Linked DNA regions of Homo sapiens. The protein of the gene in region 1 interacts with the protein of each later gene in a pairwise test. Each region holds a gene or a part of one and is shown in the gene's direction. Other genes may lie near its edges.

Region 1 (15,870 bases):
ATAGTGTTCTGTGCATAAGGTAAGGAGTTGAATGTCTTAATGTTCCTGTGGCTCATTGAAAAAGTGTTAAAGTAAGTGAGATAATTACTGTATTTCAGCAAATCTAATTGCCATCAATTGTAAGGGACACCATTTTATGTACCACTAAGACAAGCTGCCAATTACAGAATGTATCTATTATGTGAAGAAAGAACGTGCATCTTAGAATTGATGAGATGTAGGTCTTGGAGACAACTAAAGAATACTAAGGGGAGGCATGACAGTTGTCATCAAACACAGGAAGAACTGGAATAGGGCAAGTCTCAAACCAATAAGGAGAAGTTGAATGAAACAGACTTTTTCTATATTAAGGTGCTACACAGTACTAGCTGCTTCATGAAGTAAAGGTTCAGTCAATGTGCAAACAAACTGAATGACTCTCAATTAGTTGACAGGACTGCCTTTTTAAATAAAAAGTTGAATGTGATTACTTCCAGACCTCTTTTCAGCTCTTTAAGGTACTGATACCCTTTTCTTGATTTGAAGTTGGAGACTATGATGTCATCAGGGCTAAAAGGTATATACTTAAAGCATTGACCTTTAAGTACATAAGAATATGCTGTTCTGTGAATCATGGATAAGGTATACTTAAAATCACTGCTATATCTTTGGAAAGAAATTTAAATCAAAAAAGAATTACAAAAGGCAACTTTATTGAACTTACATGTAGAGTTGTTTTGATGTTAGGAGTAGGAATGTGAAACATTAATAAAGCACAACAAATAGTAATCATATGTATGTGTGTATTCACCAGATTTATTTATGTGTATATTTCTACATTTGAAAGAGGAAAAAGACAATTTTTAAGTTTTGACGTAAATGTTTAGTCTGAAATTGTACGTTGCATTAGTGTGCAATCTCCTGGGTACAAGTACTAAGTAGAATAAAATCTTGTTTCTTAAAATCCCACTAAATATTATAATCCCTGTGTATCAGGGGCATTCATTTACTTTTTCCTATAACATCCAATGTTCTAGGGCAGAAACCATGTTACTACAATAGTATTTGTTAGCAGAACAGGAGGAAAGCTGAATCCATATATAAATATAAAACAGCAAAAGTGCTTTTATCTCAGTTATTTCCTGGGAATATTTCTGCTGATCTTAAGATTTCCTCTTCAGTTTGTATGTATAAAAACTGATAATGTAATGGGAATTACATTATCAGTTATGTATGCATTAATTGAAGGTTTTTTAATCCAATTAAACAGTTGTGTAAATACTGTGACAAGATTTTAGTGACATGTCTCTTTATCATAAGAACTCAAGATTTATAGGGCTTTTTAAAAAGCTAGTCATTTCCATGTTTATTGTACAGTTTTCTCTCAGTTATTTAAATGACTTCTTGAAAGTGTCAAAATTCACAAGGTCCTAATTGTCATAATTCTCTATCTTGAAAATCCAAATTATTGCATAGTCAAATAGCATATGATAACCAGTTGACATGTGCTAAAATACTTAAACTATCTTCTACATAGCAAAGCCAATTTTTCATTCTTTTTGAAATTTATCTTAGTTTTCATTTCTAGGCCTGAAAGGCCATACCATACCACCAAAATGTTTTGACATCTTTCTTAGAGAAGATTAAATAAAACTGGCTTTATGCCAAAAGTGTTAGTTCTTTTAGACAATAATTGAAGGCACTAGCTGAGGAAAACAAATCTTTACTATGAATCAGAGCTGGTCTCTAATTTGTATGTGTTTCCTGAAATGTAATGTTTTTGTGATTTGCATTTATTTTTGGCCTAAGTGACATTTTGACCATATAATTTACTTTTAAAACTTACAATACATGCTTTTTTCTTCCAGGCCAAACTATTTCCTAGTGCATAATGAAGATAATTTTGATGATAATACATGAATTCTTCAAACATTTTGGAAGAATACTTCAAATTTCAAGGGTGGTATGATGTCCACAAATCGCTGAGTCTGCTTGATTCTTTTTAGAATCAGGCCTCTTGATACTAATTTATAATGAGAAAACTATTTTAAATTAAACATTTATTCTTCAAAATTATACATCTGAATGAGAAAACATTACATGAGGGAATGATATAAATAGTTTCATCTTCTTATGTATAAAAATAAAGATTTGGGGCAGCCAGAATGTTTCAAAGCTACCTTTAAATCTGTTACATACTGAACATTTATTTTAAGATGGAGTTTTAATTACCATATGTAACAGTGCATGAAAAATGGGCTGTCTTTGAGTTAAATATTTCCCCTCTTAAGAGAAAGATATGTTTGTTTTTTTATTTTGAATGTTTTAACTTATTGTCTTCAAGTGGTTAATATTCTTCAAATATAACATGCTGTCTATTGCATGAGTTATATCTCAGTTTTAAAAAATGCAAGTCATGTTACTCCTCTGCTCAAAAAGTTATTTCCAGATTTCCCTTTTTTTATCTAAAGTTTTGTATAATTTTTTTCAGTTCACTCTAAATGACTTAATATAGGTCTAAAATTTGAATATTAGTTGACTTGTATATCACTATTAGGAATCCAAATTCCCTACATTTGCAATGACACTGTCATTGAACAACAAAATCCATTATCCTAGAAGTGTTTGTAAATTGGAATATCATGGAAAAGAAAAGCTCAGACTTTCGAATGTTAAAGTGGGGCATCCTTTCCAACTTTGACTTATTATTCTTAGCATTTTGGACTAAGGGTAAAACCTTAGTTTCCTACATCATATCAAAAGAGAATACTGAAGAAACTGGAAGTTGTGCATAACAAAAGGCCTAGGAGAGACATAATGGCTGTCTTCTCACCTCTGAGGTAGAGTCATTTGTAAGGCTTAATCCTTTTTTTTTTTTTTTTTTTTCTTGAGACGGAGTCTTGCTCTGTCGCCCAGGCTGGAGTGCAGTGGTGCGATCTCGGCTCACTGCAAGCTCCACCTCCCAGGTTCACGCCATTCTGCCTCATGTAAGGCTTTATTCTTAAAAATATCTTTATCCTACATAACGCCAGAGGACAGAATAAGGACCATTACATAGCTGTTATGGCAAGGCAAATTTCAATCTACAGTAATAAAGTACCAGTTTATAATTTTTCAAAAGTTCCAGAAATCATTAGGAGTTATATCTTTCCATCACTGGAAGTGTCCAAGAAAAGGCAAAAAAAAAAAAAAGTATTATTAGAAATATTCGATGATGCTTTTCAGTCTGCAGAGGATAGGATTTCCTTCTGCCTTATAACTATTGCACATCTAGTTATTCCCTGTATTTACTTCTACCTTGAATTTTAGCTTGAATTTTTAGCAAGCCACTAGAAACCTAACTTAATCTCTCTGTTCCACATAAAACAGTACTACTACTATTTGCTAAGCATCTGAAGAGGCTATTTTCAACACAAATGTGATTCAGAGTAAAATTAAGCAGGGGGACCAGATTAAATTATTAGTTCCTTCAGCCTCTACTCACCGTCCCCTTCATAATCGTTTCACAGTAGAGATTTTGATTAAGCCTAACTGTACTTAAATATAAGTATAGAAACACATTTTAAATCCATTCATAAATGCTTTTTGTATTATCTACACTTCATTTTTGTTAACAAATTTCTTAGAAGTGGCATAGTATAGTAGAAAAATTGTTTTAGGTAATTTATTATCTTCGAGTAGTTAGTATTTCTTAAATATAAGATACTATGTAAAATGCAAATATAAAATCCCCTGGCCCTGTCACAATATGTGTGCAGTCTTGCAAAAATTACCTAATCTCTGAATGTTTTTCCCTCTTCTTCTCATGGGAAGGTTAAATTAAGGCATTTGTAAATAACCTAGCTTATATTAGGTGTTGCATCGACGTAGGTCCATTTCTCTAAAGACAAACACTCTTCCTGTTAGCCATCATGCTAGGACAGGCTCTCCATGTTTTTGGATTCTGTTCAAGACCTTTTAACTTCACTAGATACTGTTATATAGCAATACCCAATTTTCTAAAGTGCATGGCAAAACAAAAATGGGAATTAGATACTAGAATACTAAAACTCTTCTAGACCAACCCTTTTGTACGACAAGGAGGAAACTAATATTGCTATGGTTTAAAAGTGTCCCCCAAATTTAATGTGTTAGAACATATTCCCCAAATTCATATTTTTGATGGCATTTCGAGATGGGGCCTTTGGGAGATAATTAGGATTAAATAAGGTCATCAGGGTGTGGGGCCTGATGGGACTGGTGGCTTTATATGTACAGTGGCCTGAGTTAATAGGCATTCTTGCTTTCTTGCTATGGAACTGCCTTCTGCCATGTTAGGGTACACAAGGACCTGACCAGATACTACTGTCATGCTCTTGGACTTCCCAGCATCTAGAATTGTAAGAAATAAGTTTCTTTATAAATTACCCAGTCTCAGGTATTCAGTTATAGCAACAGAAAATAGACTAAGAGGATTATTTACCTTGTGTCAAATTATTTACTACTAAAGCTGGGACCAAAACCTCTTGGCCTCTATGTTTCAAGTTCCAAAGCTGATTTCCCTTTTACTACATACCTGTGTATATCTCTCCCATACAGATTCACTGCAGTTAACATGAAAGACTCAACAGTTGGTGAGATTTTAGGAACTCTAGAGCACTACCAGTATGGTATTAAAAATTTGCTAATCTATCCAGAATGTAAATTTTAATGGAAAAAATGTGAATTGATTGTCTGTGTTTTGCTTTCCTCAGTTGCAAACATAAAGGCTATACACAAACATAAATTTGAGCTTTTAAAAAATATTTTAAATAACTACAATTACAAGCAAAATGCAAAGTCTGGGAGCTTCTTGGTTAATGTTGAACTAGGCAATGGTTAAAATCCCTTCCTGTTCTAATTTACTGTAATTAGAGATAGTAAGTAGTGTTCTTAGTAATAATTATATGCTCATTTTAATAGGTGAAGTTTATGGCCAGGAAAAAACAATCAGAAAAAATAGTGACCACATAGGAAATGTATTTTGAATTTAAAATTCTGAGGCTAATAACAAATATTTAACACTCATAATGGAGCATGGCAAGGAAATTAATTTGGTATCAGCAAGCTGGAACTCAATTTCCTATGACATTAACAAAATCTATAATTATAGCTGCTGAATCAAGAAGAAAATATAAAATGGTTTTATATGGTTTTCTTTGTTGGATCACTCATACTTTCATCATGTGTAATATCTAGTAAAAAAGGTCTAAACTCTAGAACGTAAATTTTAATAGAAAAAGTGATTATACATTATTTTCCTATGTATTTTCGCTTTTCAAGTGTTTAGTGGCAGTTATCAAAAAACTTCATAATGTGCCAATTTTTGAAAAAATTTTCCCACCTGCTGTAAATTCCCTTCTATTCCTAGGATACAAAAGCCTGCCTTAAAATTATTTTTAGAATCTTTTATTAAAAAGTATATATACATATGATATTGTATACTGCAACTTTAGCATCAGCCACAGGACTTTTTGAATATTGATCATGAGAACAAATTATAAGTAACATGGCTTTGATGCCCTTGTTTAGACAGGCTTTATTTTTCTTTTAAATTGAACTTTATCAAGACCTGGCCATGATCCTACTGGAAAAACTACTGCAGACGATGTACATCAAATAAGTCAGTCTGGTTCTTAATATTACATTTTTAATCTTAATTGGTGGAACACTATTCAAAGAAAGGACTAGCTGCTTTTTCTGTGCTACTTCCACCTTTCACAGGGAACAGAGATTTTAAGTGACCTCAGATCTTAGCATTTCTGAGCTTTCCTGGAGTTCTTACTACCATTCTGACTTAGTAAGTGGTGACCTGTATTCTGAAACTGAGGGGCTGACATATCCAATCTTCCTTGGGAATGTGATAAAGCAGCTCCGCTTCAAGTAAGTAAAACTAATAAACACTTCCAGTGTTTCATTAAGAATAAAATAGAAATTGATTTAATTTGTGAAGTCTTAATACGTTTGACTTTCAATAAAGATGTGAAGATAAAAGTGTTCAGAGAAAAGCTAAATTAAAAACAGGAAACAGGAGAAAAAAATGTCTAGAGAACAGAAGACACAAGTTTCTTTAAATACTTTAAGAATAATTGCCAAGAAAGAAATTGACTAAATGCAGAACTGAAAGAAAATGAATTTTAAAACTTCAAGAATTTCAGTTAAAATAAGATAGAATTTTCTGATTTTGTTCCCTAGACTTAGACCACCGTACTTCAGTTTTGAGGCAGAGGTTTCATTCACAGAAGACTTTGAGCTCTGGAATCATTGAAAAACGAACCATATTCATTAAATTATTGGTAGTCCCCCAACTGCTGTGCATTAATAGGAATTAATTCTGCCTCATTTCAGTTCCTCAACATACTGAGCTAGAATAATTGTATCTTGTTATTTGTTCATCATTGCTTCAGATCTTAGACATAGCTTTTCCTTTCTTGGAAAAGAAGATTATAACAATAGAAAAAAAAGATTATTTCCTATGTTTTTTATTTTTCCTGCAATAGGAAAAAGATTCAGATTGAAGATTTGTGATTTTCGGTTATGCTATTTCAATTATTAAACTCACTTTTAAGCAATGTAATCACAATTGTCTTTATGCTAACAGGAAAAGAATACAATTCTTACATTTAAATTAAAAAAAGAAAATCTCAAAACCTGAAAGGTATTAGAGAACAAAGCATCTTCCTAATTTGGACGTTTTTCAAACTCTACATCTTCTTAATTTATTGAGAAAAAGACACTTAGGATCTTCCTGTAATTAATTTGCCCATTGCTGGGAAATACTTGTTACCTGTCATAATGTAGTGCTTCAAAATAACGTTATCAGAACTGCAGTCGAAAGGTACTCAATACCAGTTAAGTAACATTTGAAGTCCAGGAAAGAGAAGTCAAGAATTCCATGATTCCATGTTTCCGTATTCATCAGGAACATAATTAAGAGTTTATTCATTTGAGACTTACAAGCAAACAAAAAAAGTTTATGTAGTTTGCAAGGAAGTTAATATTCTGATTTTATTCTTCGAAATGTACATATAAATAGTTCTCAAGTTTGATTTTATGATAAAAGTGTAGTTTGGGAAAAGGTCATTCTAACTTTAAAAAGGTCGCGAAAACAATAGAGGCTGAAGCATTGTTAGCGTAATTGGGGGAGGAGGGAGCAACGGCAAGAATTAAGAGCAGAACACAGGTCTAGAAACAGTACCTGTCCCAAAGTGGGTCTGCCCGGCGCTGTCGCTTTAAGCAGCGCTCCTGGAAACCTCATCTACAAATCCTGGGGCGGGTCAGGGGTGGCAAGACTCCTAAGGAGGGAAACGACAGAAATGATTCTGTTCTTGCGAGCCCCAAAGCAAGAGTACTTTTCTGATGGGTAAAGTGGTATTTCTTTCCAGGCTGCAAAGCTCTCCACCTTTTTCCTTTGGTCTCAGTCAGCCCCAGCCATGGGGGCAAATCAAGTTGGGGTCAACTCGGCTGCCAGAGACCTAAGTTGCCACAAGGGTCACCGACGACCTAAGCAGCAAGTTTCCTTCGTCCAGCCTCCTGCCCCCACGCACATTGCCTCCACAGCAAACTCCACCTGACTCAGCTTGTTTAACTCCAATCCTGCAGCCCTCCCGGCCTCAGCAGGGTCAGGGGGCGCGGGTCTGCGCCAAGACGGTTAGGAGGCCCAAGTCCTGGGACTGGACGGTTACTGCGCTCCCTTGGGCGCAGCCGCTGGCGGCGTGGGCGCGGCTGGGTCACGCCTCCGGCACCACCGCGCGCCAGCCCGCCCGTGGCATGGGAACCTGCGATTCAGTCGTCCCCGGGGACCTCCCAGCGCACACCGCTAGCCTGGGGCTTTCACCTCGATCCGCCCGGCCTGGGCGGCTCGTGTCCTCCCACACCGCCACCCGTGCCCGCTTCCCGGGGTGCGCCCGGAGCCTGGCCGCTCTCCCTGCAGGTGACCAGTACTCGTTTGGAGTTCAAGATTCCCGCCGCTCCACTTGAACTCCACCCTCCCCTCTTATTATTATTATTATTTTAACTTCCCTCCGGTTAAGCTAAATTGATCTTAATCTTTCATCTCGGACGTCCCTCTAAGGGGAGTGAGCGAAGATTCCGATTGCAAGTCGCCGCTGTCGCTTGTGCCCGTCAGCCCCTCGCCCAAAGGAGACGCCCCCGGGCGGGGCGGGGCGGAGCGGGGCGGGGCGGAAGGGCCCGGGTCTGCTGCGGACGGGGCGGGGCGGAGCCTCCTCCTGCACGGGGGAGCCCCCGGGCTCGCCCCAGCTCAGACACTCCTAGCCTTGGGGCAGCTGCCGGGCGAGTCAGCGGAGTAGCGGCCAGCGGGCGATGGAGACAGAGAGACACCCGACGAGAGGAGGCGGGGTGGGGGAGGCGGGGAGAGTGCGGGGGCGGAGGCTGGCAGGGGGCGCTGGAAGCTGGAGCGGTCCGTGCGCTCCCCGCGCCCGAGGGTGCAGGAGGCTCTGAAGCGGCTGCTGCACCGCGGGGCCCAGGCGGCGGCTGGGGGGCTGGGGGGCGCTGCCGCCGCCGCCGCCGGGGGCGTCGCTGGCCTCGGCCCCTTTGTTCTCGCGCGCTCCCCCTCGCCGCCCACTCCCCTGCTGTCGCGCGGCGGCGGCGGTGGCGGCGGCGGCTCCTCCCGCCCGAGGCAGTCGGGCTCGGCGCCGGGGGCGGGAGGGGGCGGGGGGAGCACGCCAGCCGCCGAGAGTGGGGGGCGATGGCGAAGCTCCGGGTGGCTTACGAGTACACGGAAGCCGAGGACAAGAGCATCCGGCTCGGCTTGTTTCTCATCATCTCCGGCGTCGTGTCGCTCTTCATCTTCGGCTTCTGCTGGCTGAGTCCCGCGCTGCAGGATCTGCAAGCCACGGAGGCCAATTGCACGGTGCTGTCGGTGCAGCAGATCGGCGAGGTGTTCGAGTGCACCTTCACCTGTGGCGCCGACTGCAGGGGCACCTCGCAGTACCCCTGCGTCCAGGTCTACGTGAACAACTCTGAGTCCAACTCTAGGGCGCTGCTGCACAGCGACGAGCACCAGCTCCTGACCAACCCCAAGGTAAGAACGCCCCGCGCACCCAGGGGCTCCCCGCGAGGGAGGTTTGGAGGCAGCGTCGGTGTTAGACTCCGCGCGGGGAGGGTTCGGCGTGTGCTCGCATTGCTAGGAGGAGACCAGGTGGCGCAGGCTGTGCTCAAACCAGGAATGACTACATCAGGGAGCCCCAGGGCTCCGGTCTTTTCAGGTGGGTTTACGCGCGGCGACCAGTGGTGCCCAGAGGCTTACTTTAAAACCTGTCTTGCCTGGTCTCAGATTTTGAGGCCTCGACCCAGTCCGGGTCCTGCGCCTACCGGACTGGGTTTGGAGAAGTGCAAGGAGCCAAGAAAGTTAACTTTTCCTCCATTTAAAGCCAGTGGTTAGCGGGGATCCACCTACTCCAGCTCACGGTCAAGGTCCGAGCTTCAGCTGGTCTCATCTAGAACTCAGATGGAATGACCTTCCTTGAAAGGTCGAGGGGACTCTCGAAAGTTGTGAGAGAGTTCCTCACCTTTTCGCTCTACATAGGCATTTTCAACTTGGGGTTCAAAGATAAGCTTTTGTGGCTTGACAAACGACCCGGAATCAAATGTGGAATATTGCGGGTCCATTTTGGGAAGTACAGAGGGCTCCTAGTTTTCATGAAATAGATTCTCAAAAGAGTCTACAGGGAGCCTAGTTACCCTTTGTGTTTAGGGACAGTCAGGAGTCGTCTGGAGAACAGTAAAACTTGCTGAAAATAGAAAACCTTCAGTGAAATGTACCTAATATGACTTCTCTGACAACTTCTATTGGTCTCGAAAGCAAGCAAGAAGAAAAAGAAAAAGAAAAAAAAAAAAGATAAAACCTGGTTAGGACTCCCGGGATGGAGAGCAGAGAGAGGAAGTCTCAGAAAACTGTTCCCAATGGAGAAAAATAACTTATAAAAAGCAGTGTCCTTAGCCTGTGAACTAATTGAGCTTTGTAGTGCACCTGGTTCTGGTTCCGTTTCTACTTCCCTTGATCTTTTCTGCTCTCCTTGTTGCTTAACTATCAAAGGTATGTATCTTTTTAAAAGTTACTGACATTTTTCCTTTTTTTGAGGGATCAAGCAGAAAAACAGTCCAAAAGGGAATGCATCTTGTGTTCACAGGAAAACTTTCTGTTAACTCTAACAAGATATATTTATATTAATCCAAAAGAAAAAAATTCTACATTAATATTATAATAGTATTTAAAACAGCTTACCGTCACTCTGCAATAAAACTTGTGGTCTTACCTCCTGAACAGTAAATTCTTGAATTTGAGACATTTAGAAAATATTTCTTTTTAAAAATATGAATGACTCCTCTCAAAAAAAAAATGCTCCTGTCGACAAATGAATATTGATTTACCTTAAAAAATATCAATAATACATAAGCAGTAAATATAGGACTAAGAATATAGAATTTGGAGTATAATGTTAAAGATCTTGAAGAGGTGATAACGTCTCAAAGACAAATGTTGTAACTTGATCCTCTTAATGCTCAGGAATTTAAAAAGAAATCTCAGGGTTTTAGAAACATTTTTTTTTTTAGAATTAAATCAATAATGTCAAAGATGAGTGCCAACCAGTAGTAATGATTTAGAAATTATATGGCAGTTCATCATTTAGAAGTTGTTATAGTTGGTGAAACGTTGCTAATTATTTTAAGATAGTGGTTCAAGCACTAATAAATTTCATATCTATATATACATATATATGCACACACACATTAATAAATGGCTAATATCTAATCAAGACAAGGACAAATTATAATTTATTACAAAAAGACTGCTTCACAATTTTCAGGCAGTTTGAAGTATCTGGCAGAAAAAGTAAATTGAAATCATTGGGACGTTGATTTTTAAATTACCTAGAAGCAATCCCAATGCTTTATGTAATACTAAAATTTCTCCTCTCTCTTTTCTTTATCTCTCTCTCCCCTGAAAATAATCATTTTTTTTCCAGTGCCAGTTCAGATCTTGGCAACAGTTGTTTTGAAAAAGTACCTGAACAAAATACATTTTATAAAGTAAAGTATTCAGGAACTGACAGAACTGGAGAAGAATATATTTATGTTACAGAAGTCATGGACAACATCCTATTCATTTTAGTCAAGGTTTTCTCAGCCAAACCAATTTATATCTCTTTATCCAGATTATAATTATGTTGTATCATTTATAGACTGTAAGTTTGTTCTTTAGCATCACCTTTCTATTTTTGACCAATAAATTCTCAATTTGGAAATTCTTATAGGCAGTGTGATGGAAAAATTCAATGTAATAAAAATATTATGCCAGAGTCATGTACATAAGCAGAGTGTTTCCACAGTGTCCCTGCAATTAGGCAATACCCATTGTCCATTCCTGTTGGCTCTTGGCTGCCTAGATCTTTTCTTTGCCTTACTTTACCTCTTTATTGAAGGCCTATGCTTCCCCTCTGTTTCTTTGTAGAATGTCTAGATTCCCAACAGTGTCTTGAATCCCAGCCGCCTCCAGGCTTTTCTTCATGACCCACCAACACAAGAAACCACTTAGGAAATCACTTCTTAGAAAAAATAGAATAAGGAGTTTTTTCCTCTCCCTTGAGTTTCCTGCATTAATTACAGTAAGAGGCAGGAGAGGGAAAGAATACATTGCAAATACAGAATTTCTTAAGCCATAAGCTGCTGAAGAAGATACTGTGAGTAAATTTGATCTTTGACTAATAATTTCTTTAAAATACCTTGAGTTCCTACTGAATTTATTTGTATTTTGAATCATATCCTTATTGTCTAAAGCAATCACTATATCCAGTCTTGTAATAGAGTATTCAAGGCAACAAATTGTCCACAGGGAGATTATCTCTGTGGATTAACCATAGCAAAATCTAAATTCGGGGTCAACTTCCTCTTGCTACTATTCCAGTCACTGCACTATCTCTTGGTGACTCACAGTTGTATATGCTAGGAGCTTTGGTTCTCACCTATGGCTGTACCTTAGAATCACCAGGGGAACTTTAAAAAGAAGTTCTTATGGCTGGGTCCAACTCTCCAAGATTCTGATTTGGTCTTGGGTGGGGCCTGGGCATTGATGTTTTTTAAAAGTTCTGTGATGATTCTAATGTGAAGACAAGATTCAAAAACCACTGTCTTAGAAAATGTTCTCATCTGCTGTGCAAGAAAAACAACCTGAGAACCAAAAAGGAGTCATTGTGATTAATATTTGTGTTTTCAGATTAAAAGATATTGTTGGTGCTACTGAATTTTTTGTTTTTTTTTGTTTTTTTGTTTTTTTTTTGAGACAGAGTCTCGCTCTGTCGCCCAGGCTGGAGTGCATTGGCATGATCTCGGCTCACTGCAAGCTCCGCCTCCCTGGTTCATGCCATTCTCCTGCCTCAGCCTCCCGAGTAGCTGGGACTACAGGCGCCCACCACCACGCCTGGCTAATTTTTTCTATTTTTAGTGAGATGAGGTTTCACCATGTTAGCCAGGATGGTCTCGATCTCCTGACCTCGTGATCCACCCCTGCCTTGGCCTCCCAAAGGGCTGGGATTACAGGCATGAGCCACCGCGCCCGGCCAGTGCTACTGAATTTAGGGAGTCGGTATAAAAGGAAATTCTGAAGGAAAGGGAGAGTATTATTTAAAATTATTATGTAAATAATAGTTTAAAACCAATAAGTTTAAATGAAATGAACTTGATTCCAGACATTTGCATTTGCATAATTATATACATTGGATGGCCAAAAAAAAAAAAAGGTGAGTTTTTAAAACTGCCCTCTTGTATGTGAGACAAGACAGAGTGAGTGATTAGAGATAATATGGTTATTTCATTTATTTATTTATTTATTTTTGAGTCTCATTCTGTTGTCCAGGCTGGAGTGCAGTGGCATGATCTCAGCTCACTGCAACTTCCGCCTCCTGGGTTCAAGCAATTCCCCTGCATCAGCCACCCAAGTAGCTGGGCTTACGGGCATGTGCTACCACACCCAGCTAATTTTTGTATATTTAGTAGAGACAGGGTTTCACTATGTTGGCCAGGCGGGTCTCCAACTCCTGGCCTCAAGTGATCCCCCTGCCTCAGCCTCCCAAAGTGCTGGGATTACAGGCGTGAGCCAACACGCCCGGTCTATATGTTTATTTTTATTTTGAGTTTTTTTTTCCCCTTCCTCTAATAATAAAAACCTAGAAACAAAGGATAAAAGGCTCCTTCTAAGAAACCAGTACTCTAGAAGTGAGAGAAATGCATTAAGGAGAAGAAAAACTTAGGTGGGACTGAATAAGGCTTCAGGCATTACGTTTGCTGAAGTTGGATGTACCTAACTACAGGGCGTGGTGGCTCACAGTCACCTAGGCCCTCTCCACATCCACTCATGTACCCTGTCCCAGTGCACTGTAGGAGAGGCAGTGTGGCCTGCCTGGAATTGTTTCTGAACTCCTTCCTGGAACATTCAGTTTGATACATTTTGCGCTCTAGAGACATCCATCATATCAGAACTACATGATAAAAGGCTAAGCAGAATTGTGATGACTTCTTTGTAACCTTTATTTATCTTGAAAAAGTGGCATTTCTTGGTTGTTTTTCCTTTGGAGATGATGTTATATAATGTTTGGTATATACATAAAATTCAATCAGGAAATCCTTTTTCAGCATCTATTATAATGATCAAAGAACTGGGCAAGAAACTAGAGGGCATACAAAGATGAATATGTTCACTTAACAAATATTCATGAAACACGTATCCTGAGCTATGTGTGCATTCAGGTGCTGAGACTAGAATATAGGTCAAAACAAAGTTCCTGCACTCATGGAACTTATATTCTGCTGGGAAGTAACAGACAAGAAATAAATGTATAATGCCATGTCATGTAATGATAGGTGGATAAAGAAAATTTGGGCAGGATAAGAGTATAGACAGTGACAAAATACGTGAAGGGCTCTTCTTTTGGACAGGGTGGTCAGGGAAGGCCGCTCTGATGAAGTGACATTTACACAGAGACCCAAAGAACATGAGGGGATGAGCAGAGACAGAAGGGATGTAAGTAATGAATCATGTGGCTATCTGGAGACAAGAGTGTCCACCAGCTGAGGAAATAGCACATGCAAAGGCCCTGTGACAAGTGTCTGTGTGAGGAACTATGAGGGCGAAAGTGAGGTTGGACCACAGTGAGCAAGGTGGACAGTGGGAAATGAGGTTAGGGTCCTAAAGAACACGATACGGACTTTGGATTTTATTCCAAGCATGATGGGAATCTGTGACATTAAGCGGGGCTGAAATATCATCAGACTTAGACTTTTAAAAAATGCAAATGATCCCTCTCGCTGCTGAGTTGAAAACAGAATTTATATGTATGTTTACATGCACATGCACACATTCTGACTTGTGCAGTGAGAGGTGCAGAGGCAAGACTTGAAACAGGAAGTCCTGTAGGACAGGCAAAAGATGGTGGTGGCTTAGATCAGTGGGTAGCACTGGTAAAATTTACTAATGAATTGGATATGAGGAATGAGGGAAAGAGGAGTTGAGAATGGCTCCAAAGTTTGTGTCAAGTGCAACTGGGTGAACGGAGGTGCTTTTAGTGATGGGAAAAACTAAAGGAATAGTAGGTCTGGAGGAGTGTGGATGAAAATCAAGGGTTCAGTTTTGCATATGCCTAACAGACATTAAATATGAGGATGAATCCATGAGCCTCTGTCCTCAAGGAAATTATTACCTAGCAGAGGAGATAAGGACACAAATAACTGTCAAACAAGGCAGAATGTCAAGTTCTACAGAGAGGTACAAACATTATGATATGAACATCCAGAGGGAAAAAGTTAGGGGGAAAGCTTCATGGAGAAAGAAGCATTTGCTATAAGTCCGAGGATGAACAGAGTTTCATCTTGGTGGTGAGTAAAGGGAGGCAGGGTGGAATGAAGAGAACATCAAAGAAGATAAAATGCAAGAAACAAAGCTATGAGCTGTGTGAGTGTGGGGTGTGTTGGGGGATCTGGATGGACTGGTGTGTGTGGAACACAGGGCACATAGAATGAGGTCTTGGGGGTAAGGCTGGAGAGTAAATTCGAGCCCACAGTGTAGAAGACCCAGGCAGCCAGGATGGGTTTGCTAGATACTGGGAAGCCATGGTAGGAGGAATAATGTCTCCCTTCCACGATGTCCACATCCTAACCCTCAAAAACTGTAAGTGTCTTATGTCACATAGCAAAGAGAAATTAGAGTTAAAGAGGGAGTTAAGGTTGTTAAACAGTTGATGTTAAAATAAGGAGATTATCCTGAGTTATCCAGACAATCCCAATGGAATCACAAGGTACTTAAAAGTAGAAGACAGAGGCAGGTCAGAGTGATAGAGTTTGAGAAAGATCCAACCAGCCATTGCTAGCTTTGAATACAGAAGAGGGCCATGCGCCAAAAAAAGCATGTAGACTCCTTCTCCAAGGAAGTGGTAAAAGGCAAGAAAATGAATTTTCCGCTAGGCATTCAGAAGAGAACGCAGCCTGGCATCTTGGTTTTAGCCCAGTGAGACACATTCTAGATTCTGACCTCCAGAATTGTAAGATAATAAATTTGTGCCATTTTAAGCCACTAAGTTTGTGTTACAGCAGCAATAGGAAACTAATACAGAAGTCAAGGACGGTTTTTGAGTAGGTGACTTATGATTAGATATTTAAAGGCGTGGTCAGAATATCTCTTTAGAAACAATCTAATTTGGGCTGGGTGTGGTGGCTCTTACCTATAATCCCAGCTACTTGGGAGGCTGAGGCCTGTACCACGTAGTAAGATCCCATCTCTTAAAAAAATATCAAGGAAATTGGCTGGTCATTGTGGTGCACACCTGTAGTCCCAGCTACTCTGGAGGCTGAGGAGGGAGGATT
Region 2 (15,767 bases), on another chromosome or scaffold:
CAGAGGCTGGGCTCTGCTTGGGTGCTGAGCATATGCTAGGGTGGGGAAGGAGAGGGGCAGATGGGGGTGGCTGGAGGATGCCCTGCCGAGGGTAGAGTCTGGTCAGGAAGATGAACGTCGAGCGGAGAACTCCAGGTGGGAGGAGGGGGTCACAGAGATAGGGACAAACCCCCTTGACCCTGGCCGGGCTGCCTTCCTCATCCTCTGAAGCCTCTTTCAGAGATTGCTGCCCCTCTGCCTTATCAAAGGAGGGCTGGGACTGCTGAGCTCCACTGAGTTGCCCCTGGGAGCGAGCTTTCCCCAAAGGCTCAGGCCCAAGTAGGAATGAGTTAGCAACAAAGGCTTGAAATAAGTAGGAAATCACCAAACCAAACCACAAACAAAAGCCCTCCAGGCCAGGTAAGGACATTATTAGGAGTTGATAGGATCTTCTTGTTCTTAATTAGTATGTGCTGATAGGAAATCTCCAAGCAGCTTTCGCTGGACTGCCTGAGGGTCATCTCACCTCTCTTCAGGCTGCGGCTTCCTGTGGCCACCTTGCTTTAAGGCTTGTTCCCAGGACGGTCTCCTGGGGAGGAAGAAGATGTCCTCTCAGAGGCCAGCAGGTCCAACTAACGAGCTATGAGATGCCCAAGGTGGATGAGGACCTGGGCTCCTAAAGTCCCACAGCCCATTGTGTCCAGAGAGATGCTGCCCTGGGGACCCGACACAATGGCACCTTGGTTGCAGCCGTCCGGGCTGGCAGCTCACAGAGGCACAGTGGGGTTTTCTCATTTCAAATGCCTGGCCCCTTTCCAGAGGCACTTAGAATGGCCAGCTGATGGGCGTGCTACTTTTGCTTTGGAAAATGCGTCCACGAATATACTTCTCTCCCTAGGGACTGGGAAGGAGGAAGAATTGTGCAGCAGGGAGAGGTGAAGGCCCCACTGGAGAGAAGGGGAGCCCCTTGTCCTGCCTGCAGCAGCTGCCAATGGAAAGAAAGAAGAGTTGGGAGTCTAAGCTGGAGGTTGCGGGGCCAATTCCCTTTTGGCAGGCGAGAATCCGGACTCGGGCGGATTTCAGGCTTCAGTGTTTGTAGGAGGAAACACAGCAATCACACTATTAATAGTAAATTAAAATAAATGGGCAACTGCTGCATGGTAATACTTTTTTTTTTAAGGCAAAAAATAAAAAATAGTGAAACAGAGAAACAAAACATGAAACACCGGCAGTCAACAGGCAGGCAAAGAACCTGGGGGTGGGGGTAGCAGCGGTCCCACCCTCAAAAGGCCCGGGCTGCCCAGACCAAGAGAAAGCGATGAATCTCTTCTGGTAACGTCCCTTCCTGTCGCATGGATTCAAGGCCGACCTGCCCCAGCACCACCACCAGCAGCCTTCTGCTGGGGCCGGCACAGCTGGGAGCAACCTCCTACTCTCAGGCAGACGCGCAGCACCAAGCAGAGAGGCCCGGTGCAGGATCCCAGCGCCGAACCAGCGCCGGCTCAGTGGACGCGGAAGGGGCCGGCGGCCGCGGCCGGTCCCATCCCCCACTGCAGACCCCCAGCCTGTGGCGGTGGTCCAGTTCCGCCAGGAAACCGCCGCCTGGAGCTGTGGGTCGCGCACATTAACGCATCCAGCGGAAAAATGAAGGAGACCCAAATTCAAAGTTAAAGTAATGGTGACCCGAGAGGTGCCTTGATGAGAAGGTTTGGGGTCCCGGTTACTGATGGTTATCATTCTTACGAGATGCTGGTCACCTACGAAGGGAGAAAGGCACGAGGAGCGCCTGACCAAAGTGGTTTTGCCCTGCTTCCCGCAAGAGGTGGCACCCACGGCTGGAACGCAGGAGTCAGACCCACAGTCCCCAGCTCTGGACGCCCGCAGCGGGGCCTCGAAGAGGTTCAGGGCGGTGCCCGCGGCGCTCGGGCCGGGTCTCCCGGGGCGTGGGGCGGGGGGCGGGGTTGGGCGGCGGCCGGGGCTCCTCCCTCTTCTGCCCCGGGCTCCCCTGCTCTTAACCCGCGCGCGGGGGCGCCCAGGCCACTGGGCTCCGCGGAGCCAGCGAGAGGTCTGCGCGGAGTCTGAGCGGCGCTCGTCCCGTCCCAAGGCCGACGCCAGCACGCCGTCATGGCCCCCGCAGCGGCGACGGGGGGCAGCACCCTGCCCAGTGGCTTCTCGGTCTTCACCACCTTGCCCGACTTGCTCTTCATCTTTGAGTTTGTGAGTGGCTCCTGGCCGGGGAAGGGACGGGGTGGGCTGAGCCGTGCGCTCTCTCGGGCGCCCAGCACAGCTGTCGGACGGGATCCGCTAGCTGCGCAGGTTCTGGGAGCATCGGGGCAGCAGGCGCAGGGCGGGGACTAAGCCAGGGAAGTCCCCTCCCACCTCCGGTCCTTTGTGCCCTTCTAGACCAACAGAATGAGGGGAACAGTCTACAGGACTATGGAGGAAAAACTGGGTTCCCAACTGGGGTCAGATGTAGGCAGCGGGGCAGGGGGGGACGGCTCTTGGTTCGCTGGTCCCAAAGCTGCGCGCGGGGCCCACTTGACGCGCGCAGCGCCACCGAAGCTCCCGCCGCGCTTTGCGCGGTTGGGTAGAAGTGCGCAGCTTTTACAAGGGAGAAGGTTTCGTTAAAAAAGAAAAAAAAATCAGCAAGAGAAACATTAGTATTACCAACCGAGATTTGGAGATGAGAGGGAGCTGAATCCGGTTTATTTTCTTCTGGCCTTTTAAAGTTTCTGGCGAGGGAACGTATTTGCGACCAATTCGATCTGGAAATGAGGCCATCGTTTGCTTGGCCGCAGTCCTTCTGCCCCGTGTGCGGGGTGGGGGTGGAGGAGATGGGGGGTGGGGGGTGGGGGGTGGCGGCGAGAGCGATCCGCGCGCCTCGACTGACCTTGGGCAGGCCCGGGGCCTCTGCACCTGCGGTCGGTCCCGCCTTGCACGCACGGTCTCTGCCTGAGGCTGCAGGAAAGCGCTTCCTACTGAGAACTCCTGATAAGCGCTCACGGTGTCGCGAAGCCGAAGTGACCTCCCTCAGCCTCAACTCCCCGGGGGCCGCTGGCCTTCACCTGGGAGGGGTGTGCCCTGTATGTCCTGTGGGTGCGGTCCGTCACCGCCTGAGGGACACCTTTTCCGGCACCCCACCCTCAGAAGTGTCAGCGTGGAGAGTTGGGCGGGAAAGAAAATGTCGGAGCCTGGCTGTTTAAAAATTGGACCCCAGGTTGTTATTGCCTGATTGGAGGGGGAGGGTGTGAATACCAAAGGGAGCAGGTCAGTTCATCCAAAGAGGGCTTGCGGGCAGAGGCTAAGAGGGCTGCGGCGGCCTGGGAGCAGGGCTACCATTGAACTTAGGGTGAAAGTCCAGTCGAACCCAAACCTGGGTGGAACCGGTGACTTGAAATCCTAGGGATAGGCGGAATCAAAGCAGTTACATTTAGAAGAAACCCTGGACGCCAATGAACGCAGCCCCACCGTTTACAGAGAGCCAGCCCCCCGCTGGCCTCCTTTTAGAAGTTCAGCATACAAGAAGGAGTGCCCCTGAGAGTAGGAACAGTCCAGTTAGACGGGGCGATCTGATCTGCGGGAAAGGTGACCGGAGACTCCCACCCAACCCGCCAATGCTGCAGAAATTACAGGGGCGTGGGAAACCTTGGAACCATCTACTACTGGCAGCTTGCTCTTCCAGCGTGGCTTTGTGGCCTGCCGGTAGCGGGGCTTCCAGAAGAAACAACTCCCCCTCGCCCAGAACGCTTCTCTCAGCTGACTTAGAAAGTCACTTCTCCACCTCACCCCTGTTCCCCACCTCCCTTCCTCACTTCCCAGGAGACCCGCAATGCATAGTCATCTCCAGGCATCTTCCACATGCTCTAGATTAGGGGTGGGCTCGCAGGTGCCTGGGAGAGAAGAGGAGAAAGCTGACCCCAAGCCTCTCAGTTCTCCTCTGCATGGACTGTAAATACGAAGCTGTATATATTTGATGTGTGGAAGGAGTGGAGAATTAAAGGGCCTGAGAAGGCGCTGGCCACCCCGGGAGAGTTTTTGTTTTTGTTTTTGTTTTTGCTTTTGAGACGGAGTCTCGCTCTGTCGCCCAGGCTGGAGTGCAGTGGCGCGATCTTGGCTCACTGCAGGCTCCGCCTCCCGGGTTCACGCCATTCTCCTGCCTCAGCCTCCCAGCTACTCGAGAGGTTTTTTTAATTATGGAATATTACAACTCGACAACAAAAAGACAACCCAATTAGAAAATGGACAATGGACTTGAACAGAGGTTTCTACAAAGAAGATACACAAATGGCCAATATGCACATAAAAAGATGCTTAACATCATCAGGCATTAGGAAAACTAAATTGAAACCACAATGAGGCCAGTTGCGGTGACTCACGCCTGTAATCCCAGCACTTTGGGAGGCTGAGGTGGGTGGATCACCTGAGGTCAGGAGTTCGAGACCAGACTGACCAACATGGTGAAACCCCATCTCTACTAAAAATACAAAAAAAAAAAAAAAAAAAAAAAACCCGGCTTGGGTGGCTCATGCCTGTAGTCCCAGCTACTCAGCAGGCTAAGGCATGAGCATCGCTTGAACCTGGGAGGCAGAGGTTGCAGTAAGCCGAGATCATGCCGCTGCACTCCAGCCTGGGCAACAGAGTGAGACTCGGTCTCAAAAAAATAAATTAATAAGTAAATAAATTAAATAAATAGAAAGAAAGAAATCACAATGAGATACCACTTCACACCCATTAGGATGGCTACTATCCAAAAAACGGAAAACATCAAGTATTGGATGTGGAGAAATTGGAACCCTTGGTATGCCACTGGCGGGAATGTGAAATGGTTCAGCCACTGTGGAAAACAGTTTGGTGTTCCCTCAAAAAATTACCCTCTGACCCAGCAATTCCACTCCTGGGTATATAACCAAAGGATTCCAAGCAGGGACTTTAGTATTGGCACATGCATGTTCATAGCAGCAGTCTTCACAATAACACACAGCCCAGTGGCCATCAGCAATGAACTGAATAACAAAGTGCGACATATCCAAACAATGGATACTACCTGACCATAGAAAGGAATGAAGTACTGATACGTGCTACAAAGTTGATAAACCTTGAAAACTCTATGCTAAGCAAAAGACACAAGGCACAAAATGTCATATAGTGTATGATTCCGTTTATATAAAATACTGGAATAGATAAATCCATAGAGACAGAACACAAACCCTGGTGGTTTGCCAGGGACCAAGGGGAGCAATTGTTTAATCGCTATGTGGTTTCTTTTTGGGGGTAATGAAAATGCTTTGGAATTAGATTGAGTTGGTGGGTGCACAACACCATGAATGTACTAAATGCCACTGAACTGTCAACTTAAAATGATTGGTTTGATGATATGTGAATTTCACCTCAAGTTTAAAAAACAAAAAATAGAAATATTTCAAATGCCACAGAAGAACATATACAATACTTTAACAGACACCTACATAATTATTGCCCAACTTTGTCAAATCTTAATATTTTGCCTTGTTTGCTGTTATGTATTAAGGAAATGAAGCTTTCAGATGGCATCTAAGCCTCCTAGACATCCTTCTGTTATCTTATTCTCTCTCTCCCTCCGTCCTCAGGGCCACCTGTAGGCTGAATGTGGTGTTCACTTCCAAGCACAGGTTAGACTTTTACTGCACACATATGAACTACACATGGCATTGTTTTACATGTTTTCGCACTTTATGAAAATGCCAGCATACAGTACGTATCCTTCTGCAACATGCTTTCCAGGCAACATTATGTTCTGAGATTTATACATGTTGACTTTGTTTACCCAGTCTTCTGTTAATAGACACTTTGGATAGTTCCAATTTGCTGCCTTTAGCTATTGCAGACAGCATTGCTAAGAACATTCTCATATTTGCCTCTGTAGTTACCTGTTGGAAATGTCTCCCAGAGACACTTGGAGGATGTGACTTGTTGGGTCACAGGGGATATGCACATTGTCATTTTCCCAGGTGTTATCACATTGCCGTCCAAAAGAGTAATTCCAATTTACACACCCCAGGAGCAGATTTACTGGGAAGCTGATGTTTAATTAAGTTCAAGACCCCTACTTACTCAAGCCCCTTCCAAGACTCTGCCTAATTTTGTATTCTCTTATAAAGATGGTCCTCCTGATTGTTTAAGCTTCAGGCTAAACCTGGACCTTCCCCGGCCCCTACCAGCAGCACATGAAAGTCGCCATTGTTCCTCATCACTTGGTAGCGTCAGACTTTATAATTTTCTGCTAGTCCAATGGGTGTGAAATGCTTGATTATTTTTTAAATCTGTAGTCCACTGAGTTGTTGATGACTCATAGTTCAGATTCCCATGCCTGACCTCCCAACAGCCTGGGAGGCGCAGATGTCCAAGCTGATCCGGGTGGAGCGCCACTTCCATGGTGAGGGGACTGCCCACTGGAGCAAGTGAGGGTGGCAGCTCAGGGTGGGGCATAGCAACCTCTCCTTGGCCCAGCACCCCTATCCCAGACCTCCTGACCTCTGAAAGCTGCAGAGTCCTCACAGGAAGAGGAAGGCAGGCCCAACTAGGAAGTGAGACTGCCTTTCCAAATACCTCCAGAGCCACAGAGGCTGTGCCCCTATTGCAGGTGGTGTGGTCATCAGTGCAGCCCCATATAGGCCAAGGGTGAAATAGCCAATGCTCTCCCCTCCTCCAACAAAACCCAGGGCTTTGCTTCTCGTCTGCTCCCCTGCAAAAGTCCCACCCAGTGAGGAACTTTTCCTTTTGGAGCCACTCTCTGTCTCTGTCTCCGTCTCCATTCTAAGCCAGGGACTTCCTTGACACTGGGCCACCATTCAGGGAATGAAAGGTTCACAGGGAAGGCTTTCTGTCTCAGCTGGGGCCCCCAGATGCGAGGTCTCCCACAGAGTGCCAGGAGAGACCCCCTACCCATTCAGGACTTGTGAAGGAAGTGCCTGAAGAGGGTTGTGAGATCATCTACTCAGCCCCCTCCTCCCCAGGCCACAAAGGAGGCAGGGTTGTGAGTGAGGGTGTGAGGAATGCCGCCCAGCCCTCCAGGGGCATGCCCTTCCTCCTCTGTGCCTCAGAAACACGAACAGAAGTGCAGTCACATCACGGGTTGGGGTTGGGGTGGGGAGACACCCGCAATCAGTTTGCAGTTTTGACAGTTACAGTGAACTGGACAGAGTAATGACTAAAATGACACCTTTTCTGTGACCCAAAGTGACTGGACTGTTATTAAGAGTGACCAGAGAGGTCTGGGGACTTCTGCTAGATTTCTACCTGGCTGGGGAATAGCCAGCCCGACAGAGCCGGGACTGGGCCATGGGCCAGCGAGGCAGTTTCGCATTAGGTGGTCCAAGCTGTGGCTGCACTGAGAAGGTGGCATGGGAACTCCTAGGAGACCAGAGACGTAGAATGACAGAAACCTCACTTTCAGAGCTGGCAGGGAACTGAGGCTCAGACAGGGAGCAACTTGCCTGGGTCACCGGGTCTCCAGGGTCCAGTGAGCACTTCTGGCAGTGAGCAGATCATGCCCAGGCTTCTCCTTTCACCTAATCAGCCACACGAGATTTTGCTTGCACTAGAAGGCACACTGGGATCCTGAGTAGGCAGCCCTGCCCACCTGGCAGCTCTGGGCAAGGCTTGGTCCCTTCTCTCCCCCAACAGGAATGAAGGGACAGCTCAGGACCACTGGGAAGCTCACACCTCCTCTGGGTCTCCTTGTCAAAAACACACCCTGCAGGTTCTGAGTCACGAGGTCCAGGGCAGGTTGAAGAACCCGCATTGCACTGCACACCCTCCACTGACTGGCTGAGACTTGGAGCGGACATCTCGAGGCCAGGCCACCCTCTTGATATTTTTATGGGGGATAGAATAGTGGGAACAGTTCTCAGGGAGAGGCTGGGGCAAGCAGCCAGGTGCTCTGAGGTTCTCACAAGTCAGACCAGGGACCTCCTCTGTTCTGGAGAAAGTTCCCTGCTGTGCTAGCTAGGAGCCTCTCCTACAGGCACCAGGGAGTGGGGCAGGCCCCGCTTGGCCAGAATGGGATGGTGGCTGAGTTGGCCTTCTCTGACTGTGTCCACTGGCTCCTGGCTCTGTCCCTTCTCTGTAGCTATTTAGAGAGGGCTACTGCCTGATCTTCCGTGTTTTCTCCTCTCTTCCTCTCTAAAGGGAGGAGAAGTGTTCTAGACAGAGATTTCACAGGGGTTTGGTGGAGAAGTGACTTTTCTGGTTTTTCAAGACCAGAGGCTGGCTTTGGTGAGGACTCAGTAACTTTGAGCTGCTCCCTGGAAACTGCTAAGTGTGATGATGGGGCTCATCTCCACAGGATTGTCAGACATGTGTCATCACACCTGAGCTATATTTTAAAAGATTGCCTTTTAGCTTTTCATAAGTCACTCCCCCACCTCACAGGGATGGGGCAATGCCAGAACTGGTGCAAAGGCACCCTTTCTGTCCCAGTGCTTTCAGAAGTGAGTAGGAAGCCCCACGATGCTGCTGCCAGCAGCGCTCACACTCAGGTCGGCCAGGGACAAGGGCTGAATTTTGCACCTATACTCGCCACACCAGCAGGCGAGGGGCAGAGCATATTGTGCTGCCAGCACAGACTAGCTCTGCACAGCCTTAGCAGTGGCTTGGCTTTGTCCTGGGCCCAGACACATTCTCCAGAGAAGGGGCTGGGAGTAGGGACTGGACCACCTGGGACCTGCCTTGACACAGGACAGAGCCAGCCAGACTTGAACTAGAAGGGGCTGGGGGCTGACTTAAGCCACTCCAGGGCTTCCTCCTGGCCCCTCCAGTGTCAGTGCCGGACATGGTGCTTTGGACCAGCAGGCCTCAGGGACAGGTGCTGATAGGACACCCCAGAGGGTGTACCCTCCTGGTGTTGATGGGTGTGAGGACAGTGGGGGACTGTGCCCCTTGTCCTTGAAGCAGGAACGTTCTGGGGTGTGTGGCCAGCTCCTTCTCACAGCTTTCAGATTGTTCCCAAGGGCATGGAGCATGGAGCAGGTCCCTCGTGGTCTCTCATCAATTTGGAAGGCTCCAAATTGCCTTTGACACCCTGGTGAAAGGTTTGATACCCAGTGAGCTCCTAGCTGGGCATGAGCAGTGTAGCCATTTCCCTTCTTGGGGTCATGAACGTGCCACACTCTGCTTCTCTGCAGCACTTCTCCCCAGGCTCTCTGCCGCTGCTACCTCATTCACAGCTAGTGTTCTATGCCAGGATTGGGTGAATCATTTTAATGTACCCGGGCCCTGGGTCCTGCAAAACATATGTAGGAAATCAAAGGAAAGCCTGTCACCAGCCACAGCACCTCCGCAGCGGGAAGAGAAGGTGCAGGGTCGCACAGCCAGCCTCACTGACCTGCAGTTCCTGGCCACAGCCTCCAGTCCCTGTGAGAATGCAGTGGGCTGGGAGGGGAGGGGCTGGAAGGGCAGGGGGAGGAGACAGAAAGTGAAGGTCCCAGAACCAACTTGGAGGGAGGCCCACGGGGGGCCCGGGAGGTGGGCACTCCAGGAATAGGGCCACGGGGAAGGACAGAAGATGACGTTCCCTGACCTGTCAGTGGAGTGGGGCGGGTGGGGTCTGCATGGCAGCCCCTCCCTCTTCTTCAGACTGAACTACAGGCCTGCATCTGCCGAAGAGGGAGCGGGATCCTTTGGCATTTCATCTTGTGCTGTATGTGTCTTAAACACAAACCTTGCTATTGTTTTCCTCTGAAGAAACAGAGGATATTGAGACTCATTGTTTCAGTGGCGGGCCAGGGAGGGAGAAGCCGGCTGGGAGTGGCCTAAAGACTAAGTGGTTATTCGCCACTTAGTTAACATGGAGGAGGCTCCATGTTAACGCGCCTGTAATCCTGGCACTCTGGGAGGTCAAGGTGAGAGGATCACTTGAGGTCAGGAGTTTGAGATCAGCCTGGGCAACATAGCAAGACCCCATTTCTACAAAAAATGTAAACAATTAGCCAACTATGATGGCTTGCACCCATAGTCCCAGCTACTCAGGAGGCTGGGATGGGAGGATTGCTTGAGCCTGGAGGTCAAGGCTGTAGTGAGCTGTGATCGCATCACTGCCCTCCAGTGTGGGTGACAGAGTGAGAACCTGTCATCAAAACAAAAATCTCATGGCCATTTCCAAAGCTGACCCTAGACACAAGAGGTAACTGTCACACCCATGGGGGCCTGGATCTGGGCCTCAGCCAGCTCATCAAAGGAGCACCCGGCAGCTGTGGGAACGTGGGCAGGTAACTGTGCCTCAGTTTCTGCATCAGTAAAATTTGGACATAGCAGCACCTGCCTCACATAGCTACTGCCCCATAGCTATCAAGTGCTGTTATTATTAGTTGACTAATAATTTAAGCATCTGCTCTGAAACCAACTGGCCGACCTGTGCCGATGGCAGGGTCCGCAAGGCCCGCCCCCATCACCTTTGCCATAGGTGCCCTCTGTTCCATTCTCAGGCAGGTGCTGCATGAGGATTGGGATTGGGCCAGGCTGTGGAGGGCACACTTGACTTTTCCCTGGAGTCACCGAGTCCTGCACAGACACCACCTTCCTGGGGCCTTCCCAGTGGCTCTCCTCTCACCAAGAAGGAACAACTGAGGGCAGAGGTCAGTGTGTCCTCAGCTAAGAGCTTGATGGAGCAGCCAAGGGGTGGAGGACAGTGTGGCAGCCCCAGCCTGCCTTCTGCCCAGGGAGCAGGCTGCTTTCTAAGCCTCTCTGCATCACCCTGCCAGCCTGGTGCCAAGATGGGCAGGCAGAGCTTTGTGGATTCTGAGTGTGACACATAGCTACATCTGCCCGCAGGCGTAGGAATGAATTATCAGCAGGCTCAGATTAAAGCTTTCAAAAGCGATTTGTCATCAGTGTCAGTGTGTCGGCTGTATGCAAGGGCATCAGTTCAGGGAGGGGGCAGCCTCTGGCAAAAACCTGTGCCCTCACCTCCCCCAGCCTCCATCCTGGCCCCCAGCTGCTTGGCAGGAGGGCATAGTTGGATTGAGGGGCCTGGCAGGAAAGGAACCGCCGAGCTTATGGGTCTCAGGACTATTTCTAAAACCAGCCACAGACCTCCTTCATCTCCATCTGTGGTCAGGTTGGGGGCAGCAGTGGGAATGCTTCTTTGTTGGAGGTGACCCTTTAGGCCCGAGCTAACCCATCCCCTCCACCGGGAAGCCCACCCTTCTAGCACCCTTTCCTGGCACTCAGAGCACATCCTGCAGACCTTTGCTTATTGTCTGTCTCGTGCCTACACCCTAAGTCTGCCCACATCCCTGGCACAGATCAAGAACTCTGAAACATTTGTTCTCAGCAAGCATCGGTAGGGAAGGGGCTCGGGTCTCCTCTCTCACCTACCTAACACTGATGAATCATAAGATGAGTCCTTGACCTCAAAGGCGGACAGAGGGTGAAACTGACAAAGGCTGCCAGTCCCCAAGAGACTCTGGGAGTTCCATCTCCCTTGGACCCTCCCAGACCCTGGGCGGGCAGCCTTCTGTCGCCTCTGGCAGGTGTACACCTGTTTTGTTGGTTTGTTCACATTACTAACCTACCTGGTGACTCCCATAAATCCCTTTTGTTTTTCTTGCATTTAAGCCACTCCTGTCTGGTCCAGCATTTCCACGGATTTTGCCTTTTACAGGTGGCTTACCCAGTATTTTCACAGAACCTCTTGGTTTCTGTTTATCCTGCTGGGTAAGGCCAGCAGGTGTAGATGTGGTAGGCAGAATTTTCCATTCAAATGAAGACATGCCTATCAGAAAGCCCCTAGATTTGTGGATCTGAGAGGAGTTTTTGTGCATTCAGGAACTAGTGACCATCCTCTAGCTCATGAGGGAGGTGGGTGTTAAGTCAGCAGTCACTTTGTCCTGCTGGCAGCGTGTGCTATGGGAGAGGCTTCCCTGGGGCTCAAGGGGGGTGAGATTGCAAGCCTGAACAGGGGGCTCTTCCCAGTCCAACTTGCCTTGTTAATATAAACTATGGCCCTCCACTCAGCTCTTAGATTTTTTTTTTTTTTTTTTTTGAGACAGAGTCTTGCTCTGTCGCCCAGGCTGGAGTGCAGTGGCATGATCTCGGCTCACTGCAACCTCTGCCTCCTGGGCTCACGCCATTCTCCTGCCTCAGCCTCCTGAGTAGCTGGGACTACAGGCGCCCACCACCACACCCGGCTAATTTTTTGTATTTTTAGTAGAGACGGGGTTTCACCGTGTTAGCCAGGATAGTCTCAATCTCCTGACCTCGTGATCCGCTCACCTCAGCCTCCCCAAGTGCTGGGATTACAGGCGTGAGCCACCGTGCCCAGCAACAGCTCTTCGATCTTTTAATCCCAAATCTCTATCCCCTTCTTCACAAACTGATCCAAACCCGCTGAGTCCTGCTCTTGCCTTCAGATTAGATAAGGAACACTGTCTAAGGCTAGCTGGGGGTGATGATGGCATGAGGGGTCCCTCTGGGAGGAAGAAGCCTGCTAATGAAGAGGCCAGGAGGGGAGAGTGACTGGTGTAGGTAAACCAAGTCAGGTCCCAGCCCCGCTCCCAGGGTTCTCTTTGGTAGCAGTCCCAGGGGTCAGACTCCCAATAATCTGCCTTTTCAGTTGATGCAGGGAGAGGGTCACCACCCAGAGAATCTCGGACCCCTCCCCCGATCTCTCCTCATGGGCTCAGGTGGGGATCTTGTGCCAACTACCGGGCTCTGTACCTGTCCTGTGTGACGTTTGGTATCTGGTCACCATTGCTCAGACACTGACACTTTCACCAGGCCTGAATCCACCCTTGGTGGACCCAGAACTGCTCCAGTGGGGACTGTGGCAAGACTGCATGAGAGAGGAGAGGAAGGGAGAGATGGGCTACGTTCATTAAAGTGTGTCTTTGAATGAGATCCATTTCCCTGGGTGTGCCTGCCTTAGTGTTGACCATGCCACTGTCAGCATCTGTTAAATGCGTGAGTGAATGAATGAATGAATGACCAAGTGAGTGAGTCAGTGAGTGAGTAAGAGAGTGAGTGACTGAGTGACTAACTGAGTGACTGAGTGAGTGAGTGACTGAGTGAGTGACCAAGTGAGTGAGTGAGTGGCTGAGTGAGTGACCGAGTGAGTGACTGAGTGAGTGAGTGACTGAGTGAGTGACTGAGTGACTGAGTGTGTGAGTGAGTGACTTAGTGACTGAGTGAGTGACTGAATGGGTGAGTGAGTGAGTGAGTGACTGAGTGACTGAGTGAGTAACTGAGTGGGTGAGTGAGTGACTGAGTGAGTGACTGAGTGACTGAGTAGGTGAGTGACTGAGTGAGTGACTGAGTGACTGAGTGACCGAGTGAGTGAGTGACTGAGTGAGTGAATGAGTGACTGAGTTACTGAGTGAGTGAATGAGTGACTGAGTGGGTGAGTGAGTGACTGAGTGGGTGAGTGACTGAGTGGGTGAGTGAATGAGTGAGTGAGTGGGTGAGTGAGTGACTGAGTGGGTGAGTGAGTGAGTGAGTGACTGAGTGAGTAACTGAGTGGGTGAGTGAGTGACTGAGTGAGTGACTGAGTGACTGAGTAGGTGAGTGACTGAGTGACTGAGTGACCAAGTGAGTGAGTGACTGAGTGAGTGAATGAGTGACTGAGTGGGTGAGTGAGTGACTGACTGGGTGAATGACTGATGGGTGAGTGAATGAGTGAGTGAGTGGCTGAGTGAGTGACTGAGTGGGTGAGTGAGTGACTGAGTGAGTGAGTGACTGAGTGATTGACTGAGTGAGTGAGTGACTGAGTGAGTGACTGAGTGGGTGAGTGAGTGACTGAGTGACTGAGTGAGTGACTGAGTGACTAACTGAGTGACTGAGTGACTGAGTGAGTGACTGAGTGACTGAGTGAGTGAGTGAGTGAGCAAGCGAGTGAGTGACTGAGTGAGTGAGTGAGTGACTGAGTGAGTGAGTGACTGAGTGACTGAGTGAGTGAGTGGGTGAGTAACAGAGTGAGTGAGTGACTAAGTAAGTGAGTGAGTGAGCAAGCGAGTGAGTGAGTGACTGACTGAGTGACTGAGTGAGTGAGTGAGTGGGTGAGTGAGTGACTGAGTGAGTGACTGAGTCAGTGAGTGACTGAGTGGGTGAGTGAGTGACTGAGTGAGTGACTGAGTGAGTGACTGAGTGACTGTGTGAGTGACTAAGTGAGTGAGTGAGTGACTCAGTGAGTGAGTGACTGAGTGACTGAGTGTGTGAGTGACTGACTGAGTGAGTGAGAGACTGAGTGACCGAGTGGGTGAGTGAGTGACTTGGTGAGTGAGTGACTGAGTGAGTGAGTGAGTAACTGAGTGAGTGAGTGACTGAGTGAGTGAGTGAGTGACTGAGTGAGTGACTGAGTGGATGAGTGAGTGACTGAGTGACTGTGTGAGTGACTGAGTGAGTGAGTGAGTGACTCAGTGAGTGAGTGACTGAGTGATTGAGTGTGTGAGTGACTGACTGAGTGAGTGAGAGACTGAGTGACCGAGTGGGTGAGTGACTTGATGAGTGAGTGACTGAGTGGATGAGTGAGTGACTGAGTGACTGTGTGAGTTACTGAGTGAGTGAGTGAGTGACTCAGTGAGTGAGTGACTGAGTGACTGAGTGTGTGAGTGACTGACTGAGTGAGTGAGAGACTGAGTGACCGAGTGGGTGAGTGAGTGACTTGGTGAGTGAGTGACTGAGTGAGTGAGTGACTGAGTGAGTGAGTAACTGAGTGAGTGAGTGGCTAAGTGAGTGAGTGACTAAGTGAGTGAGTGAGTGAGCAAGTGAGTGAGTGACTGAATGAGTGACTGAGTGACTGAGTGAGTGACTGAGTGAGTGACTGAGTGGGTGAGTGAGTGACTGAGTGAGTGAGTGAGTGACTGAGTGAGTGAGTGGGTGAGTGAGTGACTGAGTGAGTGACTGAGTGACTGAGTGAGTGAGTGAGTGACTGAGTGACTGAGTGAGTGACTGAGTGACTGAGTGGGTGAGTGACTGAGTGAGTGAGTGAGTGACTGAGTGACTGAGTGAGTGAGTGACTGTGTGACTGAGTGAGTGACTGACTGAGTGAGTGACTGAGTGACTGAGTGGGTGAGTGACTGACTGAGTAAGAGACTGAGTGAGTAAGTGACTGACTGACTGAGTGAGTGACTGAGTGAGTGAGCAAGTGAGTGAGTGACTGAGTGAGTGACCGAGTGACTGAGTGAGTGAGTGAGCAAGTGAGTGAATGACCGAGTGACTGAGTGAGTGACTGAGTGGGTGAGTGAGTGACTGAGTGGGTGAGTGAGTGACTAAGTGAGTGACTGAGTAGGTGAGTGAGTGACCGAGTGACTGAGTGAGCAAGTGAGTGAGTGACTGAGTGAGTGACCGAGTGACTGAGTGAGTGACTGAGTGGGTGAGTCAGTGACTGAGTGAGTGAGTGACTGAGTGACTGAGTGGGTGAGTGAGTGAGTGAGTGACTGATTGAGTGACTGAGTGAGTGAGTGAGTAAGTGTCTGAGTGACTGAGTGAGTGAGTGAGTGAGTGAGTGACTGAGTGACTGAATGGGTGAGTGAGTGACTTGGTGAGTGAGTGAGTGACTGAGTGAGTGACTGAGTGAGTGAGTGAGTGAGTGACTGAGTGACTGAGTGAGTAAGTGTCTGAGTGACTGAGTGGGTGAGTGACTGAGTGAGTGACTGAGTGACTGAGTGGGTGAGTGAGTGAGTGAGTGACTGAGTGAGTGAGTGAGTGAGTGACTGACTGACTGACTGAGTAACTGAGTGAGTGAGTGAGTGAGTGAGTGACTGAGTGAATGGGTGAGTGAGTGAGTGACTGAGTGACTGAGTGAGTGAGTGAGTGAG

What was found.
Region 2: the proteins of KCNMB4 (region 1) and MAL interact in binary tests that used the Homo sapiens proteins (3 or more experiments, as listed by UniProt).

The regions. Positions count from the first base shown.
Region 1 is NC_000012.12:70,358,031-70,373,900, forward strand, and holds the start of KCNMB4 (calcium-activated potassium channel subunit beta-4), read left to right. Parts: upstream 1-8,259; 5' UTR 8,260-8,704; coding exon 8,705-9,040; intron 9,041-15,870. UniProt on the Homo sapiens protein: Regulatory subunit of the calcium activated potassium KCNMA1 (maxiK) channel. Modulates the calcium sensitivity and gating kinetics of KCNMA1, thereby contributing to KCNMA1 channel diversity.
Region 2 is NC_000002.12:95,023,690-95,039,456, forward strand, and holds the start of MAL (myelin and lymphocyte protein), read left to right. Parts: upstream 1-2,018; 5' UTR 2,019-2,103; coding exon 2,104-2,196; intron 2,197-2,650; exon of another isoform or gene 2,651-2,744; intron 2,745-2,869; exon of another isoform or gene 2,870-3,340; intron 3,341-15,767. UniProt on the Homo sapiens protein: May be involved in vesicular trafficking from the Golgi apparatus to the cell membrane. Plays a role in the maintenance of the myelin sheath, and in axon-glia and glia-glia interactions.